Homo sapiens: one gene and its partner. The protein of the gene in region 2 binds, or shares a complex with, the protein of the main gene of each other region. Each region holds a gene or a part of one and is shown on either strand. Other genes may lie near its edges. A codon is read from its position in the direction of its gene.

Evidence for each region.
Region 1: the proteins of INKA1 (region 2) and PAK4 are in contact, whole or in part, in a crystal structure (PDB 4XBU), measured with the Homo sapiens proteins. Residues at the interface, in NP_976248.2 of Homo sapiens: Gly178 (codon at 7,244), Arg179 (codon at 7,247), Ser180 (codon at 7,250), Arg181 (codon at 7,253), Gln182 (codon at 7,256), Pro183 (codon at 7,259), Leu184 (codon at 7,262), Val185 (codon at 7,265), Leu186 (codon at 7,268), Gly187 (codon at 7,271), Asp188 (codon at 7,274), Asn189 (codon at 7,277), Cys190 (codon at 7,280); in NP_001014831.1 of Homo sapiens: Ser331, Gln358, Arg359, Glu361, Leu362, Thr404, Asp440, Lys442, Ser443, Asp444, Phe461, Leu475, Val476, Gly477, Thr478, Pro479, Tyr480, Trp481, Met482, Arg489, Glu507, Glu512, Phe516, Asn517, Glu518, Pro519, Pro520, Met524.

Annotation. Positions count from the first base shown.
Region 1 is NC_000019.10:39,119,058-39,130,210, reverse strand, and holds the start of PAK4 (serine/threonine-protein kinase PAK 4), read right to left. Parts: upstream 4,426-11,153; 5' UTR 4,292-4,425; intron 1-4,291. UniProt on the Homo sapiens protein: Serine/threonine-protein kinase that plays a role in a variety of different signaling pathways including cytoskeleton regulation, cell adhesion turnover, cell migration, growth, proliferation or cell survival.
Region 2 is NC_000003.12:49,797,418-49,807,695, forward strand, and holds INKA1 (PAK4-inhibitor INKA1), read left to right. Parts: upstream 1-5,843; 5' UTR 5,844-5,975; coding exon 5,976-6,026; intron 6,027-6,763; coding exon 6,764-7,570; 3' UTR 7,571-7,613; downstream 7,614-10,278. Other genes in the region: CDHR4 (cadherin-related family member 4), read right to left, coding at 1,409-1,500, 1,577-1,739, 1,830-2,020, 2,347-2,401, 4,028-4,177; UBA7 (ubiquitin-like modifier-activating enzyme 7), read right to left, coding at 7,891-8,020, 8,480-8,580, 8,656-8,748. UniProt on the Homo sapiens protein: Inhibitor of the serine/threonine-protein kinase PAK4. Acts by binding PAK4 in a substrate-like manner, inhibiting the protein kinase activity.

The DNA of each region.
Region 1 (11,153 bases), on a different chromosome or scaffold from region 2:
CTGGGTCCCCGCTCCCATCCCGCCATGACCCATCTGCCTGGGTCCCACCACCCCACCCTGACCCCTCTGCCTGGGTCCCCCCCACATCCCGCCCTGACCCTTCTGCCTGGGTCCCCCCCACATCCCGCCCTGACCCTCGCCTAGGCCTCTCCTTCACAGCCCTGGCCTCTCTGGGCTGTCACCGTCTGGGGACAGCAGGTCTGTCTCCTTCACTGTACTATAATCTACAAGGGTAGAGCTGGGCTGTGTTGGTTACCACTGGGACCAACAGTCAGATACACAGAAAGAATGTTACAAGGCCTCACCCATCCTCCAACTTTCACCTCCGTCCTCCCTGCCTCCCTCCTGAGAGGTTCGAATCAGTATAGTTCTCTTTCCCAGCTGTCACCCCTGGCACCTGCCCCCAAGGGCAGTTGGGGCAAAGCTGCAGTCACCGTCCTGGATGCCCAAGGGGGTAAAGGTGAAAGCCCTTCCATCCTTTCTTCTCCTGTGGTTGTAGGGAGTCAGTGGGGACGAGGTCCCAGCTAAGCCAGTTGTGTGAACCATCTCCCCATCTGTTTCCAAACAGCCTGGTGGGTGGGTGGGTGGGCCCATAAACCTCCCATGTCACGGCCGAGGAAATCGTTTCAGTGAGGGCCACAAAGCTGCCCAAAGCAGGACTTGAAATAAAGGGAGCCCCGGAGCCTGCTGGGGAGCACAGTGGTCCAGCCACTGGGGGCATGACTTGGCAACCGCTAGGAAAGCGGGGAGCTCCGGCTTTTCCACTACTAGGCATATGCCAGAGAGACTCTGGCCATGGTCTACAGGAACACGCGTTCCAGAAGGCCCACTGCTGCACGGTTATAGCTCCAACGGACCACCTCAGTGGCCATCAACAGGTGAACAGGCAACTCCTGTGTGACACGATCACAAAAAGAAACACCATCAGGAAAAACAAATGGCCTGTCCCAGGCCTACACACATCCCCACCAAGAGACATCCAGACTCCAATGCTCAGCTCAAAGCGGGGAGCAGGTGTGCGCGCCTGTAATCCCAGCTACTCCAGAGGCTGAGGTGGGAGGATAGCTTGAGCCCAGGAGTTAAGAGTCCAGTCTAGGCAACATAGCAAGATCCCATCTCAAATATACCTATAATGTTGAACAAAAACAGCAACTTGCAGAAAGGCATGTTTATGGTGACACCATTTATCTGAACTGTGAAACAACAGTCGTCAGCCCCTGCTGGCCATAAGAACTGCCCAGGGAGCTTCCAAAAGCCTGAGGCCAGCCCCAGCCCAGACCAAGTAAGTTGGAAGCAGAATTTCCATGGCGGGCCTGGGCCAAGGCATCTTTTCAAAGCTCTCCAGGGAGTTGCAATGTGCAGCCAGGGGCAAGAGCTGTTGCTCTACTGTTGGTGAATACATTCAAGGGCAGTCAAAGTATGAAAGGCTGCAGAGGAATGGTGACTGCCACACCCAGGACAGAGGCTGCCCCTGGAAGGGAGGGAGGAGGGGGGGTGAGGAGGAGACCCTTGGCCTCTAACTGTATCACGGTGTGTTCTGTCCCAGGCCAGACGATGGCCGGATGCATGAGTGTTTCATTATACTGAAAGCCCTTTTTCCCCTAGCCAAACGTGTTGAAGGAATAAAAGTGGCAAATAAATCATTTGTCCCATGGCTGGTAAGTGACAAGGGAGGGACCTGAATATGGGTCTCCAATGCCCAAACCCTATCCTTCTTTATCTGTGCCAAACCCTGAGATGCTGAGTGAGCTGGCACTGCAAGGCTGGGAGGCTGGGCCAGCCTCAGAGGGCTGCCTGGCAGTGTGCCGGCTCCCTGACCCTGCCAGAGCCAGGTAGGGATGGGGTGGCTGCCAGAGAAAGCCAGGAGGCAGGTGGAGCGAGGGCCTCCACTGTCTCTGAGGCCCTCCCCAGGCAGTGGTGGGGTGGCAGCAGCAGCAGCAGCAAGACTAATGCTTACACAGCAACTACTGTATGCCAGGCCTTGGGCCAAGGCTCTCTAGCCTGCATCCTCACAGCAATTCTATGAGGCAGCGCTAACACTATGCCCATCTTGCAGAAGTGGAAACGGAGGTCCTCACATGCTCTGTGAGTGATGGAGAGGGGTGTGTACCAGGCATCTCTGGCCCAGCACTGCTTTCTGAATCACGCTCCATCAAGGCCTCAGGCAGCTCCACACATACAGGTACTCCTCAGCCCTCCCCTGCTCCCACCGTCCCTCCAAAGCTGAGTCCCCTCAGCGTCTTGCCCTGAACCTGCACAGGCTACGTGTTGCCCAGATCCCCAACTGTGCACCCGAGTCCTGACCTCCAGTCATGCCAGGGCCTCTGCACACACTGCTCCTCCTGCCTGGTAAGCCCATTCCCAGCCCTCCTCCCCATCCTTCAGAGCCTTCCCAGGGGAAAGGGACTCAGGCTTCAGCCCAGGGTAGGGGCACTCTCCCGGCTCTCTGAAGATGCCCTCGCAAGCCACATCACCGTTTGCAGAGACGCAGTCTTGTGTCACTGGCTTGGGGGCTGGTTCCACTCTGCTCCCACCAGGGAACTGAGTGCCCTCTGAGGCTAGGGGCTCTGTGGATCTCGTCCCCTGCCACACTCCCAGCACCCGGCACAGTGCCCAACAGTCAACCCCCAGCAATGTCACATCCTCTGCAGGCCAGGCAGGGCTTCAGTGGGGACCGAGGCAAGGAACCCCACAGAGCAATTCCACCATGCACCCTAATAATTAAGGTAAGGAGGGAGGTAAGGGCTGGTCAGATGAGAGAAAAAGAGCCTGCAGCAAGGCGAGCCAGGGTGGTCCCGGGCCAGCTGAGAGTGAGCGACCCGTCAGTGAGAGAGGGCAGGGTGGGGAAAGGATTCCCAGCAGAAGGAACAGGAAGGTCAAAGACCGGGCGGGAGGCATGGGCCTGGAGTTGGAGAACAGTAAAGGGGCTGGGGAGAAATGGGCAGAGCCATAAGAAGTGAGGTGGGAGTGACTAAGGACCACAGTGAGAGCTTAGGGTTTTAAGAACAGTGAACACCCCGCTCTGCCCAGGGTACCACCCAGGGACACTCTCCCCAGTCAGAAGCCCGTCGGACTCCCTTGCTCGGACTCCAGACCACCTACAAACACCCTACTCCCATAGGCTCACAGGAATCTTCCCTGCCAGATCACACCCTTCCAAGGAAACCAAGCAGACAATCCGATCCGCCCAGGGAGTGGCCCAGCCCTGCCCAGCCCCCTGCTTCCAGGAGAGACCTAATGGCTGGCAGCGGACAATGTGGCGACCAGGGGCAGGAGCCCTGGAATCACCCAGGCCCAGCTTCGATTCTAACTCTGCCTTCAGCAGAAGCTTCTGAGCCTCATTTTTCCCGTCTGTAAAGTAGGTTCATCTTGAGCACTCACTTCACAAGATTGCAGCAGGAGTGAAATACGACCGGGCACACAGGGCGTGGAGCACAGTGTGAGCCCTCATTAAACATTAACCGACATTATGATGATTTGAGAGGCGGTCGGCCAGAGCAGGGCTCTGGGCCAGAACTCCGGAGTTAGAATCCCAGCGCACAACTTATGCATCGGGTGACCTTGTGCAAATCACTTAACCTCTTAATACCAGGTTAAGACCCCCTAAGACTATAGTGAGGACTGAATAAGCTCATACAAGTAAAGCGTTAAAAAGAGGGTCTAGCCCATAGTGTTTCATGAGTGTTTGCCATTATTATTTGTGGGAGGGTTCCCCCTTCTCCTGTCACCAGGAAGCATCTCTGACCCGGCCCCCCCCCCCCCCCCCGTCCCCCGCAATACGCCCTCCTTGGGTTTTAATTTTTGACTCTGGGAAACAGCTGCCCCGCTGTCAGATTCTCACCTTTGTACCTTCTAGGCACGCCCCAGCTTTGAACCCCTAAAAGACGCCCCCGAACCTAAAACTCATTCATCTGCTCCGCTAGGGGCAGCTTTAAACCTCCAACCTGGCGCCCCTGGGGCTGTGACCTCTGACCCTCGTGGGGGCAGCCTTCCCTCAAATTATTAACTTTGACCCTGCCTTTTTTGAGACTCGCCCAGAACCCCTCGAACGCGCCCCCACTTCGAATTTCAAACTTTGCACTCCCCTTCGCCACGCCCCCTTCGCTGGTTTGATCTCCGACCTCCACTACAACTCCCTCCAGTCTGCGTTAACCCCCGACCCCTCGGACGCGACCCTTCCCTCCACCAGTGACCTTTGACCCCGGCGGCCCCGCCCCCCTCCTCGCGGAAACGCCGTCCCGCCGCCAGCGCCCGGCCCACCGCAAGCCCCTGGCCGGACCCCTTATCCTACCGGCTCGGCGCCGCAGTCGCTCGCGGCCTAACTGCTCGACCTGGAACTCCGCGCCCTCGCGCCTCCCTCAGCTCTCTTGCACCGCCACCACCGCGGACACTCCCGCCGCCATGTTGAATCCCCAACGAACATCCGGGGCTTTCCCCCCTCACCGCCCACCAGTCCCCATAGCAACGAGGCTGACCGGGCAGTGGGCAGGGCCAGTGCGGGGGCGGAGTCGGGCGCCTCTCAGGGCCCGCTCCAGCCTCCGATTGGTACAGAGCGTCCAATCGGAGACCTTCGGGCAGAAAATGCCAAGCGGGGATTGGAAATTTTGGAAAAGGTGCGGGAAGGCTGGCTCCCGGCCCACTGAGGTCCTTAAAGGGGAAATGACTGTTTTCGTGTGATACCGATTTTCTAACTTCCCCCCCAGAAGGAGTTAGGGGCTGGGAGAAAGTAATGAGTTAATGGGCAGAAACAGTTCTTAAGCACTTACTAGGAGGCAGGCACCGGGATAAGTGTTTTACTTGCATTTTCTCGCTGCATATACAACCCTGTGGTATAATATCATTAATACCCATTTTACAGATAAAGAAACAGAGGTTCAGAGGGTGAAATAGCTGGCTTAGCATCATAGAAAGAAGGTAATGAGTTTTGAACGCTGGTCTGTCTGAGCCCGGGAACCTGAGACTGTTTGCTCTTCAATTTTTAAATAAGTTTTTACGAAGTAATTGGTCAAAATATTGAAAACAAACAGCAGACATCTTCTTTAAAAATTTTTTTAAATTTTATTTTTACTTATTTATTTGTCTTGAGATAGAGTTTCGCTCTTGTTGCCCAGGCTGGAGTGCAATGGCGCGATCTCAGCTCACTGCAACCTCCGCCTCCCGGGTTCAAGAGATTCTCCTGCCTCAGCCTCCTGAGTAGCTGGAATTACAGGCGTCCACCACCACACCCAGCTAATTTTTTGTATTTTTAGTAGAGACAGCGTTTCACCATGTTGGCCAGGTCGAACTCCTGACCTCAGGTGATCTATCCGCCTCGGCCTCCCAGAGTGCTGGGATTACACGTGTGAGCCACCAAGCTGGCCTTTTTCTTTTATTTTTAAAGAGAGAGTTTTGTTGTGTTGGCCAGGCTGGTCTCGAACTCCTGGGCTCAAACTATACTCCTGCCTCGGCCTCCCAAAGTGCTGGGATTGCAGGCGTGAGCCACTGCGCCCGGCCAGACATCTCTCCTCCTGGATCTTATTCACTGGACTCCAGCCTTCATGCTGTTCCTGAACTCTTGTCAGGTGCGCTCTCACCTCACAGTCTTTGCACTGGTTGTTCCTCTGCCTGGAACATACTCTTCCCCCAGGTATCCTTATCTCTCCCTCCCTTTTTTCAGGGCTTTACACAGATGTCACTTTCTCTGTGAACTAATTCCCTCGCTCACCCTAAGGAAAGCAGCAAACATCCCTCTCACATACTACCAAACTCTGTCTGCTTTGTTCTTATTTCTCACTCCTAATTGTAGTTATTGCTTGTTGGTTGTCTCCTCTGCTGGAATGTCAGCCCCATGACAACATGGATTTCTGTCTTTGTTCACTGCTGCATTCCCAGTGCCCCAGCACTGTTGGCATGTAGATGCTCAGTAAACATTGGTGGAAGGGCTGTTTGAATGCGTGGTAATTCCACCCCTTCAGAGATACTCTTAAATGTTTGGTGCTTCTCCTCTGCCCCAGAACAGCCACATAGTAGGCATTTAATTAATTTCTACTAATGTCGGTGGCAACAATGAATGAATGATTGAATGATGAGTTAATTTTTCTTTATGTTTACCTATCTTTTTTCTTTTTATTTGTTCATTCGTTTTTTTTTTTGTTTGTTTTGTTTTTTGTTTTTTTTTTTTTTTTTAGATAGGGGTCTTACTCTGTCGCCCAGGCGGGATTGCAGTCTGAAACTCCTGGGCTCAAGTGATCCTTCCAACCTAGCCTCTCAAGTAGCTGGGACTATAGGCATAAGCCACCACACCGGCTAATTTTCTTTCTTTCTTTCTTTTTCTTTCTTTCTTTCTCTTTCTTTCCTTCCTTCCTTCCTTCCTTCTTTCTTTCCTCTTTCTTTCGACAGAATCTCACTTTGTCACCCAGGCTGGAGTGTAGTAGCATGATCTTGGCTCACTGCAACCTCCGCCTCCAGAGTTCAAACGACTCCTGGGCGCCTACCACCATGCCCGGCTAATTTTTGTATTTTTAGTAGAGACGGGGCTTCCCCATGTTGGCCAGGATGGTCTCGAACTCCTGGTCTCAAGTGATCTGTCCGCCTTGGCCTTCCAAAGTGTTGGATTACAGGCATGAGCCACTGCACCTGGCTTGGCTAATTTTCTTAATTTTTAGTAGAGACGGGGTCTCGCTGTGTTGCCCAGGCTGGTCTTGAACTCCTGGCCTCAAACAATCCTCTCACCTTAGCCTCCCAAAGTGCTGGGATTGCAGGTGTGAGCCACCATGACTGACCCCTTTTTTCTTTTGACAGAATTGGAAACATACGTTTGTAAAGAATGTTGTGTCTTTTTTTTTTTTTTTGAGACGGAATTTTGCTCTCATTGCCCACGCTGGAGTACAATGGCATGATCTCAGCTCACTGCAACTTTTGCTTCCCGGGCTCAAGCGATTCTCCCTCCTCAGCCTCCCCAGTAGCTGAGATTACAGGCATGTGCCACCACGCCCAACTAATTTTGTATTTTCAGTTGAGACGGGGTTTCTCCATGTTGGTCAGGCTGGTCTCGAACTCCTGACCTCAGGTGATCCGCCCCGCCTTGGCCTCCCAAAGTGTTTGAATTATAGGCGTGAGCCACCACACCCAGCCTAGAATGTTGTCTTTTAAACCACAAGATTGTAAATATCACCAGTGTCTTTCCATGTCATTAAATATTCTTCAAGAAGATTAGTTTTAATGGCTGCATAAGATGCCATCCTATCAATGAACTCGAATTTGTTTAATCACTGTCCTTTTGAACATCTATGCTGTAGTACCTTGCCATTATAAATAATCCCCCTCCCTGTCATGCAAAATCCAAGCAGCTAAATATTTGTGACCATCTCTAATTATTTCCTTGTGCCTGTCTCTAATTATTGTTCCTACTACAAATGAAACTTCTGGGTCAAGGAGAAGGTGTATCTTTAAGAATTAAGAATAGTAACAGTGGCCGGGTGTGGTGGCTTCCGCCTGGAATCTCAGCACTTTGGTAGGCCGAGGCAGGCGGATCACTTGAGGTCAGGATTTCGAGACCAGCCTGGCCAACGTGGTGAAACCCCCGTTTCTACTAAGAATACAAAAAATTAGCCGGGCATGGTGGTGCACATCTGTAATCCCAGCTACTCAGGAGGCTGAGGCAGGAAAATCGCTTGAACCTGGGAGTCGGAGGTTGCAGTGAGCCGAGGTGGCAGAGGTGGCATCACTGCACTCCACCCTGGGTGACAGAGTGAGTGAGACTCTCAAAAAAAAAAAAAAGAATAGTAACAGTTCCCATGTTTCAAGCATTTCTGTGCATCAGGAAGCAGGGTGCTAAGCCATGTAATTGTAACAGCTAAAGCTGTGAATATTCATCCCTTTTCCAGAGGAGGAAACTGAGGCTCAGAGAAGTAACTTCACTTGCTCAAACTCAAGGACCAATGGGGCAAACCCAGCTTTGACTCCCGGGCACTGTTCTCATTGACTGCCCTCTGCTGCCTCCTCATGGCCTGGGACACACATTGCCAAATTGTGCTGTAGGGATCCAACTCACGCTCCCACCAGCCTTCAGAGAGAATGCGCCCTTTAAAGAATCCTTGTCAGCACTGGGGGCCAGGCGTGGTGGCTCACGCCTGTAATCCCAGCACTTTGGGAGGCCGAGGTGGGCGGATCACAAGGTCAAGAGATCGAGACCATCCTGGCCAACTTGGTGAAACCCTGTCTCTACTAAAAATACAAAAATGAGCCAGGCGTGGTGGTAGGCGTCTGTAATCCCAGCTACTTAGGAGCCTGAGGCAGGAGAATCGCTGGAATCCGGAGGTGGAGGTTGCAGTGAGCCAAGATTGCACCACTTGGCTGGGCGCGGTGGCTCACGCCTGTAATCCCAGCACTTTGGGAGGCCGAGGCGGGAGGATCATGAGGTCAGGAGTTCAAGACCAGCCTGGCTAACATGGTGAAACCCCATCTCTACTAAAAATACAAAAATTAGCCGGGCGTGGTGGCACGTGCCTGTAATCCCCGCTACTTGGGAGGCTGAGGCAGGTGAATCGCTTGAACCCAGGAGGCAGAGGTTGCAGTGAGCCGAGACCAAGCCACTGTACTCCAGCCTGGTAACAGAGCGAGACTCTGTCTCAAAAAAAAAAAAAAAAAAAAAGATTGCACCACTGCACTCCAGCCTGGTGACAGAGCAAGACCCTGTCTCAAAAATAAATAAATAAATAAATAAATAAATAAATAAATAAATAAAAATAATCCTTGTCAGCATGAAACATTCTTGTTTTTGCACTCTTTTGAAATGCTTGTGTGTCTTGCAGAATCTTCATTAAAAAAAAAAAACAAAAAACCAAGACCAGGAGCTGAGATGACAACACCTTATTCAGGTCATAGTAACGGGAGGAGGGGCAGGTGCAGCCTTTGCCTCTTTAACGCCCTGCACAAACTTCAGAGCCTTAGGTTCTAGAACTCATTTTTGGGGAAGTCCCCTTGTAACTTAGTTGGGGATTGCATCAATAGTCAGACCCCTGGAACAATCCCAGGGACAGATCTACCCCAAGGGCTTACTCAGGGTGAGCAATCAGGCCCTGCTACTCCAGGACCCTGGGAGAGGAAAATCAGACTCCAAAGAGCCTCCTACAGAAGGCTTCCCAGTGGGGATGTTGAGGAGGTGACTCTTGAGGGATGGAAAAAGGCGAGGAGGGTGAAGAGGATTTGGCTTCATAAAAATGATACATTTCAGTACATCAAGGAAAAAGATAAGTTGTGACATATGGATGGCAAGAAAAGCTTTCTGTCTTTCATATGTAAAGAACATCTGCAGATCAATAAGAGAAAAAGGTAAACATACAACAGAAAAAAACAGGCAAAGGACCTAAAATAAATAAATAAATAAATAACAGTGAATACAAAAAAATTGAATTGGTGAACAAGCAATTAATGAAATAAGTATTAAACTGAGATTTGCTTTTGGTCTCTCAGAAAAATGTTTTTAAATATTAATATATTATAATATATAATTAGTGCTGATGAGAGTACACGCCATCAGCACTCTCATACCCCACTGTGGACTGGATCTGGGCAGCTTTTTGGTGATATTTATTAAGAGACTTAATATTCCTATCTACCTCTTGATACAGCAATTCTACTTCTAGGAACTGATCTTAAAGGGAAAGAAAGACTAGTGTTGCTTTCTTTAGGAAAAAAACATAGATAAAGGTGTATATATGCAAATATTCATCATTAGTAAGTACTATTTTAATGTTTATTATAACTATTGCTTTTTATATGTAATATTATTGATGTATCATAATGTACTTGGGCCGGGCACAGTGCCTCATGCCTATAATTCCAGCACTTTGGGAGGCCAAGGCAGGCAGATCATTTGAGATGAGGAGTTCAAGACCAGCCTGGCCAATATAGCGAAACCCCAGCTCTACTAAAATACAAAAATTAGCTGGGCATGGTGGCACATGCCTGTAATCCCAGCTACTCTGGGCACTCAGGCTGGGCATGGTGGTTCATGCCTATAGCCCAGCACTTTGGGAGGCTGAGGTGGGAGGATCACTTGAGCCAGTTGGGGAGGGGGTGTGTGTGGAGGTTGCAGTGAGCTGAGATCGGCCACTGCCCTCCAGCCTGGGTGACAGAGCAAAACCCTGTCTCAAAAAAAAAAAAAAAAAAAGTACTTGAATCCCCTATTATTGGACATTTGGGTTGCTTCCAAGTTTTTCCCTACCCTCTATGCCAGACCTTCTCTAAATCCACTTTACCTACATATCTTTTGTTTTGTTTTAAAAATAGGGTCTCTCTGTCACCCAGGCTGGAGTACAATGGCTGGATCATAAAGCTCACTATAACCTCTTATTCTTGGGTTCAAGTGATTCTTCTGCCTCAGCCTCCTGAGTAGCTGGGACTCAGGCATGCGCCACCACACCCAGCTCATTTTTAAATTTTGTGTAGAGACAGGGTCTCGATATGTTGGCCAGGCTGGTCTCCAACTCCTGGCTTCATGTGATCCTCCCACTTTCACCTCCCAAAGTGCTGGGCTATAGGCATGAACCACCATGCCCTGCCTAACTACTTGATCTTATCTAATTGTCACTATTTATATTTAAAGTGGGATCTTTAGCTCCACTTAACAGATGAGGAAATTGAGGCACAGAAATAGAGTGGAAAGTAGAACAAAGTCCCACCACCTGGAAGCAACTCTGCTGGGCTTGTAACCAGGAAATCTTGATTTCAAAACTGATGCTTAAGCCGGGCGTGGTGGTCACGCCTATAATCCCAGCACTTTGGGAGGCTGAGGCAGGTGAATCACTTGAGGCCAGAAGTTCAAGACCAGCCTGGTCAACATAGTGAAACCCCATCTCTACTAAAAATACAAAAAATTTACCAGGCGCAGTGGCTCACGCCTGTAATCCCAGCACTTTGGGAGACCGAGGCGGGCTGATCACGAGGTCAGGAGATTGAGACCATCCTGGCTAACACAGTGAAACCCCGTCTCTACTAAAAATACAAAAAATTAGTCTGGCGTGGTGGCGGGCACCTGTAGTCCCAGCTACTAGGGAAGCGGAGGCAGGAGAATCACTTGAACCTGGGAGGCAGAGGTTACAGTGAGCCGAGATCGCGCCACTGCTCTCCAGCCTGGGAAACAGAGCGAGACTCTGTCTCAAAAAAAAAAA
Region 2 (10,278 bases):
ACATGCCTGTGCCACCACACCCGGCTAATTTCCTTCCCTCCCTTCCCTTTCCTTCTTTCCTTCCTTCCTTCCTTCCTGTTTCTGACAAAGTTTCACTCTTGTTGCCCAGGCTGGAGTGCAATGGCTCAGTCTTGGCTCACTGCAGCCTCCACCTCCTGGGTTCAAGTGATTCTTCAGTCTCAGCCTCCCGAATAGCTGAGATTACAGGTGCCCGCCACCACGCCTGGCTAATTTTGGTATTTGTAGTAGAGATAGGGTTTCGCCATGTTGGCCAGGCTGGTCACGAACTCCTGACCTCCAGTGATCCACCCGCCTCGGCCTCCCAAAATGCGGGATTACAGGTGTGAGCCACTGTGCCCAGCCTGACACCCAGTTTTCTCATGCTTCACCACTGACCCTTATCCCAGCCTGGGCTCCCTGACTTCTAGCCCAAGCCCTGGCCGCAGTCCTCAATCCTTTTTGCTTTCAAGCCAGTTACTGTTTTTAAATACTTTTTTTTTTTTTTTTTTTGAGACAGAGTCTTGTTCTGTCACCCAGCCTGGAGCAGTGGCACAATCTTGGCTCACTGCAACCTCCACCTCCTGGGTTCAAGCGATGCTCCTGCCTCAGCTTCCCAAGTAGCTGGGATTACAGGCACACGCCACCACACCTGGCTAATTTTTGTATTTTTAGTAAAGACAGAGTCTCACCATGATGGCCAGGCTAGTCTCGAACTCCTGAGGCCACCTGCCTCAGCCCCCTCAAAGTGCTGGGATTACAGGTGTGAGCCACCGTGCCTGGCCATTACCTACATGTTTGTTTTTTTTTTTTTTTTGATTACAGAAATGATACAGAATTGTCATAAAGAACTGAGAACACATAGCAGATCTTGAAAGAACTCAGCCCCTGGCTGGGAGCGGTGGCTCATGCCTGTAATCCCAGCACTTTGGGAGGCCGAGGTGGGGAGATCACGAGGTCAGGAGATCGAGACCATCCTGGCTAACACGGTGAAACCCTGTCTCCACTACAAAATACAAAAAAATTAGCCGGGCGTGGTGGCGGGTGCCTGTAGTCCCAGCTACTCGGGAGGCTGAGGCAGGAGAATGGCATGAACCTGGGAGGTGGAGCTTGCAGTGAGCCGAGATCGCGCCACTGCACTCCAGCCTGGACGACAGAGCAAGACTCCGTCTCAAAAAAAAAAAAAAAAAAGAACTCAGCCCCTGAGATGTCCCTGTGGGAACAGCCATGGTCACTGGGGAGTGAGCAGCCCTCAGCAGCTCTCTCCAAGAACATACATCATGTAGAGGCTCATCTATGCCTCTGCTGCAAGGTTCCTCTTCAGGCTGTGCCTGGCCAGGTGGGGGTTAATTTATTCTCTCCATCCCCCCACCCCCATCCTGTCACCCACCGTCCCATGTTCTGGGCTTACCTGCGCTCCGTGGAGTTCTAGGCCTGGGAGGAGCAGAGTGTACAGCCGAGCCCCAGGTGTGACTGTCTCTGGCACCTGAATCATTTCCCCAGCTGGCCAGAGTGGAGGTCAGGGAGGATCTGCTCAGGCCATGCCTGCCCCCACCCTGCCGGCTGCCCCTGGCCTCACCTGGGCTGGCAAATTGACCAGCACACTGGATATGGCTAAGGTCCCGCTGCACATCCACAGAGAGTGAGCCCTCCATCACATGGTTGCCACATGTGAACTTCAGCTGCACCTTGTAGTGGTTCACCATCAGGGCATCCAACTGAGCAGAGCTGCTCAAGGTCAACTGGGGTGGGTGGACAGTGCCATGTGGGGCTTGGAAATTTTAGGTCTGCCCTTGTGCCCCCACAGTCCCCAGCTGTACACATGACCCTACCTTGCCCACATAGGTCCCTTGCCACCTGGCCAAGCTGGGTGGGTTGAAGAAGGTGGTGGGTGGCTGGACATTGAGCAACTCCAGGGTGGGTGTGGGCGTGTAGGAGGAGCAGTTGAAGGATAAAAACTGAAGGACTGTGCCAGGGCCCTGGCTCTCAGAGACATTTATAAAGCAGGGCAGGCTGCAGAGGTCTGTGAAGAGCAGAGAATTCAGGCTGGAGGCCCCCAGGCTGATGGAACCACACATACTAGCATAGTCCTGTCCTTTTGCCACAGGGCCTGGCCATGCCATGGGGCCAAGCAGCTAAGGCCTTTCCTTGTATCCAGCATCCAGCATTTCACAGATGGGGAGTGAGAACTTGACTGAGGAAGTGGCCAAGAGAAGGGGTGAGGGCCAGGGGTTCAGATTCTTACACTTTCCTACCTCTCCCCCAATCCCTGTCCTCCATGGTAGCTTATCTGGGAAGGGTCAGGACTCCAAGGGAAAACTACGGTTCCCCCACCCACCACCTCCTCACCAGAGACCACCGGAGCAAAGAGGAACACGAGGAGCCTGAGCAGCACCATGATGACCTGAAGACACAGACAGCAGAGGAGGCTTCAGAAAGCTAGGCTGTTTGTCTGACTCACCCTGTTGCCAGGTCAGTTGCTCAAACATAGCTGGGCAGGCGGGACTCCTGGGCCTCCCAGATTCTATCCCCACCCATCCCTGGTGACTGAGTTCTAGACCTCTGGCAGGCTTCCAGAGGCTCAGAATATCCCATTTTCCATTGCCCCCATTCATTACAACTCTAAGGGCATGGAAGGGGAGGAGGATTAAGGTTCAGATGAGGAAACTGGTCATGCAATCCGTGGAGATAGAGCAAGCACAGCACCCAGGAAAATTTGGCCCAGGACCTGCTACCCCACAGAGTCTCAACTCCAGCTGGACCCCCTCCATTAGAACATTATCTGCCTATAAAAAATGAGCCCAACCGTCAACAAAATCTCTCAAAACTTGCTGGGTGTGGCGGCTTACATCTGTAATCCCAGCACTTTGGGAGGCTGAGGTGGGAGGATCACTTGAGCTCAGGAGTTCAATATCAGCCTGGGCAACAAAGTGAGACCCCATCTCTACAAAAAATTAGTTGGGTGTGGTGATCCAGGCCTGTAGTCCCAGCTACTCTGGAGGCTGAGGTAGGAGGATTGCTTGAACCCCAAGAGATCGAGGCTGCAGTGAGTCATGATTGTGCCACTGTACTCCAACCTGAGTGACAGAGCAAGACCCTGTCTCAAAAAAAAAGAAAAAAGAAAAAAAAAGTTGTCTACATCCAACAAGCAAAAGGAATCCTTTATGATAGAAATACAAATACTGGTTACCGTTGGGAATATCAGTTGGATAGGGCACCAGGTGGCATCCAGGAGTTGCTGAGGATGTTCTATATCTGGGTGGCAGCTGCACAAGTGTCTACAGATTTTAACATTTACTGGGCTGTAACTTTGAGATCTGTCTATTTATTGTATTTATATGTCAGTTTTTTTAAGTTTTCTGGCCAGGCACGGTGGCTTATGCCTGTATGGGAGGCTGAGGCAGGAGGATCGTTTGAGATCAGGAGTTCGAGACCAGCCTGGACAACATGGTGAAACCCTGTCTCTACAAAAAAAAAAAAAAAAAAAATTAGCTGAGTGTGGTGGCACATGCCTGTAGTCCCAGTTACTTGAGAGGCTGAGATAGGAGGGTCACTTGAGCCCCAGAGATGGAGGCTGCAGTGAGCCAAGATCATGCCACTGCACTCCAGCCTGGGTGACAGAGTGAGGCCCTGTCTCAAAAAAAAAAACAAAAACGGTTGTCTTTATTTGCCATCTCCAGTTCTTCAGTCCTCACTCTCTTCTCCACACACTCTAATCAGGCTTGTCCCTCTCTACACAAAACTGCCCTTGTCAGGGTTCCCAGTGACCTATGCACTGCCGAATCCAGTGGTTTGTTCTTCACCCTCACTGCCTAGGCAGCATTCAATGCTTGCTCCCCTTGGGTCCTGAGTCCCCACATTCTCAGATTTCTCCTGGCTGTTCCTGCTCAGCTTCTTTGATAGCTCTGCTTCATATCTCCCCTACCTCCACCTCATGGAATGTCCCAGGGCACAGTCCCGATTGCTGTCTCCCTCTGACTACACTGATTTCCTCCCACCCCACCTTATCCAGGCCTATGGCCTTACATACCATCCATTCACTCACTATGCCTCCCAGATCCAAGGCTCCAGTGCTGATCTCTCTCCTGAAGTCCAGAGTCATACACCTAGCAGCTGACTCTGCAACTCCTCTTGGATGTCTAACAGGCATCTCAAGGGTTACGTGTCCATAAATGATCATTGGATTTTCCTCTCCAAACCCACTCTTCTCCAGTCTTTCCCAGATCAGTTTATGGCAATTTCATCCAACCAGCTGTTAATGCCAGAAATGTAGGAGTCATGCTTGATGCCTCTTTTCCTGCCCACATCCATGCATCAGCAAGACTTGATTTTAGTTCCAAAACATACCCCAAAGTGACCCCCTTCAGTGCACCTGCCCTGCCCAGGCCTAGGCCCTCCCCTTCGTTGCCTGGATGAGGGCAGGGACTTCCACTCTTATTGCAGAATCCTTTTCTGAAAGCAGCTGGGATTATCTAAACAAGGGCTAGCCCAGGTCATTCCTGCTCAAAGGCCCCCATTGCTCCTCATCACACCAAGAACAAAACCCACATTCTGCTCTAAGGCCGTTAGAGCCTGGTTTTGCTGACCTTTTCCCTCCTGCCACCACCACCAATCACAGACACCTGGGCCTTCTTTATGTTTGGCCCTGTCCAGCTCCTGTCCGTCGGGGTCTCTTCCCTGGCTGCTCCTTCTGCCTAGAATGTTCTTCTTCTCCTTCTTCTCCTTCTCCTTCTTCTCCTTCTCCTCCTCCTGCTTCTTCTTCCTTTCTTTTTTTTTTGAGACGGAGTCTCACTCTGTCGCCCAGGCTGGAGTGCAGTGGCGCGATCTCCGCTCACTGCAAGCTCCGCCTCCCGGGTTCACGCCATTCTCCTGCCTCAGCCTCAGGAGTAGCTGGGACTACAGGCGCCCGCCACCACGCCCGGCTAATTTTTTTTGTATTTTTAGTAGAGACGGGGTTTCACCATGTTAGCCAGGATGGTCTCGATCTCCTGACCTCGTGATCCGCCCGCCTCGGCCTCCCAAACTGCTGGGATTACAGGCGTGAGCCACCGCGCCCGGCCAGAATGCCCCTCTTCTTGATTGCATCTTGATGTCACCTCCTGTGAGACTGACTTTCCCCAAGCTAGCCCACGGCCCTCATTCCCTGGTATTTTCCTGTTGCTGGTATGTCCAGTCTGTCTGCAGCTACACTACCCTTGAGCCTAGCCTGTGTTGATAGAGCAGCCTCAGCACCGACCCTCAGTCTGCACCTGGTACCGGCAAAGGGAATGCCGACGGTCGCGCGTCGCCGCTGGACTCGCGACTAGCCAAGCACTCCCCACTAGAGGGCAGTCCCGTCTAGCTCGGTTGGGACGCGGCTGAGGCCCCGCCGGTGCGCTGCCACAAAGTCCCGCCCTCTCTTGAGTCCTCAGACGGGCTGAACCCCACTTCCATCCCGTTCAGGGAGTGCCAAGGCCAGCCTCACGAATGGGTCCCGTGGGTCAGGCCCCGAGGGTCCACAACCTCTCTGGGTCCGACCATCCGGGGTGCTCTGCCTATGTGCGGACGCAGCACGGCGCCCCGTGAGAGGGACCGCTATTTCACCATTGAACAAACGGGGAGGATGAGGCCCCCGCACGGAGGCGACCTGTCCTGCGTCACGCAGCAAACGCAGGGTCCACTCAACAGTCTGGGGGCTCGGGGGGTCCCCGTACCGGCCCCGTCCGGCTTCCAGTTATGACCCCGCCCTTCCCACCCAGAACCGCGGCGGAGTCGGGAGGGACGCCGGGCTTTAGCCCCGCCCCCTTTGGCCGCGGGGCCGGGGCGGGGCGCGGCTGCCAGATGTCGGGGCGGCGGCGGCGGGAGCTACGGAGAGCGAGGAGTCGCGCAGGCAGGCGGAGGCTGAGGGCGCCGCTGGCCGGCCCTCCCAGCCCTCTCCGCGCGGCTCCGCCGGGGTTCCAAGAGGAGCTAGTAGGTTCGGTGGGGGCCCTGGCATGGACATGCACAGCGCTCGGCTTGACAGCTTCCTTAGCCAGCTCCGCTGGGAACTGGTGAGGCTCGGGAGCGGGTGTGGTTAGTGAGGACGCGTGCGGGATGCCAGGCTGCCGCCCGGCCGGAACAACAGACGGGTGCGGGGTGGCTCCAGCGTGCCGGTCCGAGGCGGGGTGGGGGCGGCGTGGCGCATATGGCTCAGATGGCCCGCGTCGGGTTTCGGACGGTTGGGAACTGAGCTGAGCATCAGATAACAGCATCCAGCTGGCCGTGCTGCTGGAACGGCGCGGGAGGAGAGAGTGGAAGGGGGACTTCTTTGGGGGCGGGGCATGGGGCGGCAAGGGACTAACGAGGTGCTGGCGCTGCTGTGAACGCCCCCTACTTCAGGCTGGCCTATGCCTCCCTTCTCTACCCCTCACCTAGCAAGCGCTCTTTCTGTGAAAGACGCTTTGGGCTTTGGGAGCTGAATCCCCCAATAGGCACGGGATGCCCCTCCAGTCCTGGGCAGGACCTACTTCCCCGTTCAGGCCCGCAACCCTGCCTGCCTGCCCGCCCGCCCTGGTGGCGGGTGCCGACTTGCCCGGCCCTGCATGCTGCAGCCTGCCAGACTGCCACCAGGTCGGTGGATGAGAACCACACCAGCTTCGAGTGCCAGCACCCCTATGCCTGCCCTGTGCTCACTAACACCCTGCTGCCCAGGCCAGCAGGCCTATCTAACCTTCCTGGACCCTCTGTTCTCTGGGCTGGCCTGGTGACAAGTGATACCTCTCCGACTTCTGCCCTCTCTTCCCCTCAGTTGTGTGGTCGGGACACAGGCTCACCCTCAATGCCTGGTCCCCTGCAGCCAACCTCCCAAACTGGCCCAGATGTGCAGCCCAGCCACCAGCTTAGGGCCTCGGGTGCCTTGGAAGAGGACTCAGTCTGCTGTGTGGAGGAGGAGGAAGAGGAGGAGGAGGAAGCAGTGGTGACAGAAGACAGGGATGCAGCCTTGGGAGGCCCCAGGGAGCATGCCCTGGACTGGGACTCTGGCTTCTCGGAGGTGTCAGGCAGCACATGGCGAGAGGAAGAACTGCCTGTATCCCAGCGCCCAGCACCCTCAGCACAGCCCCTTCGTAGGCAGTGCCTCTCAGTCAGTGGCCTCCCCATGCCCAGCAGGGCCCCTGTAGCCAGTGTACCACCTGTCCACCATCCACGGCCCAAGTCCACCCCAGACGCCTGCCTGGAGCACTGGCAGGGACTGGAAGCAGAGGACTGGACAGCAGCCCTACTGAACAGGGGTCGCAGTCGCCAGCCCCTGGTACTAGGGGACAATTGCTTTGCTGACTTGGTGCACAACTGGATGGAGCTGCCTGAGACAGGGAGTGAAGGGGGTGACGGAGGTGGGCACCGTGCCCGTGCTCGGCCCCCTCAGTTCCTGCTTGGCCTCTCTGAGCAGCTTCGGCGCCGGCTGGCCAGGGCTCGGCGGACAGCTATGGCAGGAAAGCGGCTGTCATGCCCACCTCGCCCAGAACCTGAACTGCCTGCGGATGTCTCACGCTTTGCAGCTCTCATGAGCTGTCGTAGCCGCCAGCCCATCATCTGCAATGATGTCAGCTACCTCTGACCCTGCCCTCCAGCCTGGGACAATAAAAGCCTTTTTTCTAGACTGTCCTGGCTCCATACCCCTGAGGCACTAAGAGGCAGCCCCAGCCCTGTGAGGCACTGCCCAGGGAGACAAATCTTCTGAAGAGCTTTTTTTCTCTGTGTGAAGGTCCCTGTCATGCCCATGTCACACCCGTGTGCATTAGTGCACTGTTTTCTATCGTCCATCCTCTCTGCAATGCCTTCCTTTAACAAGCATTTATTGAGTGCCTACTGTGGGCTTACAATGCAGGGCTTGGGATCCGGGGCTCCATTGAGCTAGGTGACAGGGTGGCTGCCTTGTCACAGCTCATAGTGCAGAGGTGGGAAGGCAGTGTCCTCGTCGTCACCCTCACAGCTCAGCTCTAGCACCAACACCCGCTGCCCAGGAGCAGGTGCCTGGCCTGTCAGCTGCTGAACCAGTTCTGTCACCCTGGTAGGGGTGGGTTTAGGGGAGATTGGAGAGGTGAGCCATGGCAAGCAGAAGGCAGCCTGGCATGGACTAGAGAGGGTGCTGGCAGGCCGTCAGGAGCCCAAGCCAGGAGCAGGAGCTGCTCAAGACAGGAAACATCTGAAACTATTTTAGGAGCAGCTGATGAGGCAAGCAGGAGGCAGGAAGCTATGGGTCCCTTGGGAGTGGGCTGTGAAAGGGGGGCTGTGCAGCATGTGGGGAGCCCATGGGGCTGGCCAAATAGGCAGCTCCTGAAGACTCCTCCTCAGGCTCTCGGCCCTCACCCCACCTCCAGCCTGTTTGCTGGCTCCATTTGGGGAAAGAATGCTTGGGAAGGTGTGAGGGGCCCAGAATGGGGCTGGGAAGACAAAAGGCAGTGTGGTCCCTAGCCCCAGCCTCCAGGGACTGGTGGGGCCTGTCTAAAGCCCCAAGTGGGCTCACCTGAGGGGCAGGTGCTGGGCCTGCTTTTCAGGTGACCATCCGGCCGCATAGAGCAGGGCTGAGCCGTGCAGCAGGATCCTCACCCTCAACCCGTGCTGCTCCTAGAGGAGAAAGGTCAGACACCAGCTGGGCCGGGCTGGGCTGAGCCTGGGGGTTGGGGTAGCAACAGGGCACACCTGAAGATGAGCCAGCAGCGACTCCAGGGTCCTCTCAGGCTGCCCAGCTGGTACCTTCAGACGGTCCCAAGAGGTCCACTTCAGGTGATGGAACTGGGATGAGGTAGAGGAGGAGTCAGAGACTTCTTACCTCCCCCCAACCCCCATCCCAGTTACCAGCAGCCTTTCCTAGGGGAAGAGCTGGACTAGCAGGAAACAGGAGCCAGGGGGTGGGGGGTGGGGGGGAGGTGGGATCTGGGCCCAGAGTCTCAGCCCCCTCCCCGTCCAGGCCGGGGCCAGCACAGGAAATGGGGCTATGGGGCCCGCACAGGGAAACAGACGATCCATCACATGGGCCAGTTGTGAGAGTGGGGGATGAGGGGGTGGTGCTTCCTGAGGAAACCCAGAGCAGGGCCCCTGCAGCCTCTGATAAAGCTGCTTGTTCCTCAAAGACAAGGCTGGGAGCTGGGGGGCACATCCTGTCCCCCAATCTTGTATGTACTGCCAGTGCCTTGGGCTACTCATTGGGACACAGGGGCAAAGGGCACAGTGACCACCAGGGCCCCACTGTCCCAGAGACCCCAGCAGGGATACAATGCATAGAGGCTTCCTCCTCCTGTCCCTTCCTTCCTTCCAAGAGTCTTGGGGTTCTGGGACCTAGAGCTAAGGACAGAAGGATGGCTGGCAGGTATCTAGAGACCAGGACAGGGGGTGCTTATCAGCCCCTGAGAAAACACACTGGGGTCAAGCTGAGACTAGGCTAGAGGTGAGATGGGGGCTTCTCCTTCACCTGCTTCACTCTGTGGACAAAGGCAGCCTGTATGCTGGTTAGAGGCAGGGTGCCTCACAAAGGGGCTCTGTGTGCTAGTCCAGAGGGACCCCAGGCTGCTCAGCAGAAACCCAGTGCTGGCCCATGACCTCTGCCCTCTCCCCTCATGAGGGCATTCCTTCTACCCTCATCCTTGCCCCAAGGAAATGCCAACTGCAGAGCCTGGGCACAAGGCTGGAGGCATTCACAGCGCTGCAGTCACAGGAACACAAATGCCCACAAGCCCAGGAACACACACATGTGTGCCCACATGCATCTCCATGCATGCCCACATTGAGGACACAGGAAGATGGGAGCCCTGCACTCCCATCTGATGCACAGATGTGCAAACTTGCTCCTTCCATACCCACACTCCGGGGATGCCCAGACCCCAGTTGCACTCACAACTGTGACACAAATACACTCAGGGCTGCAGACCCCACACCTCTAGTGGCAAGCCTATTACCTTTTAACTCAGCTTGTAGGAGGTAGGCCAGGGCCCCCGTACCATGCAGGGGGAAGCTAGACTCTTTCTGGGGCTGATGCCCTGGTCCCCTCCCCACTACCTACCCCTCAGGGGTACTCCAAGGAAGGAGGGGACTGTGGGGGATGTCTGGCTCCACTAATGAGTTAAAGCTGCAGCTCCCCCAGATCCTGGGCTTTGGAGGATTGGGGGTGGGGATGGCTGACGGCTGCTTCCTGTGTCTGACAGGTCCCAGCCTGGCTTCATAGCAGGAAGAGGGCTGGAGGGAGTCTTCAGGACTTCTGCACAGTCTGAGTTTCAGTGAGAGCCGGCAGCTAGATTGGGGCCTGTATGGGCAGGTGCAGGGGAAACC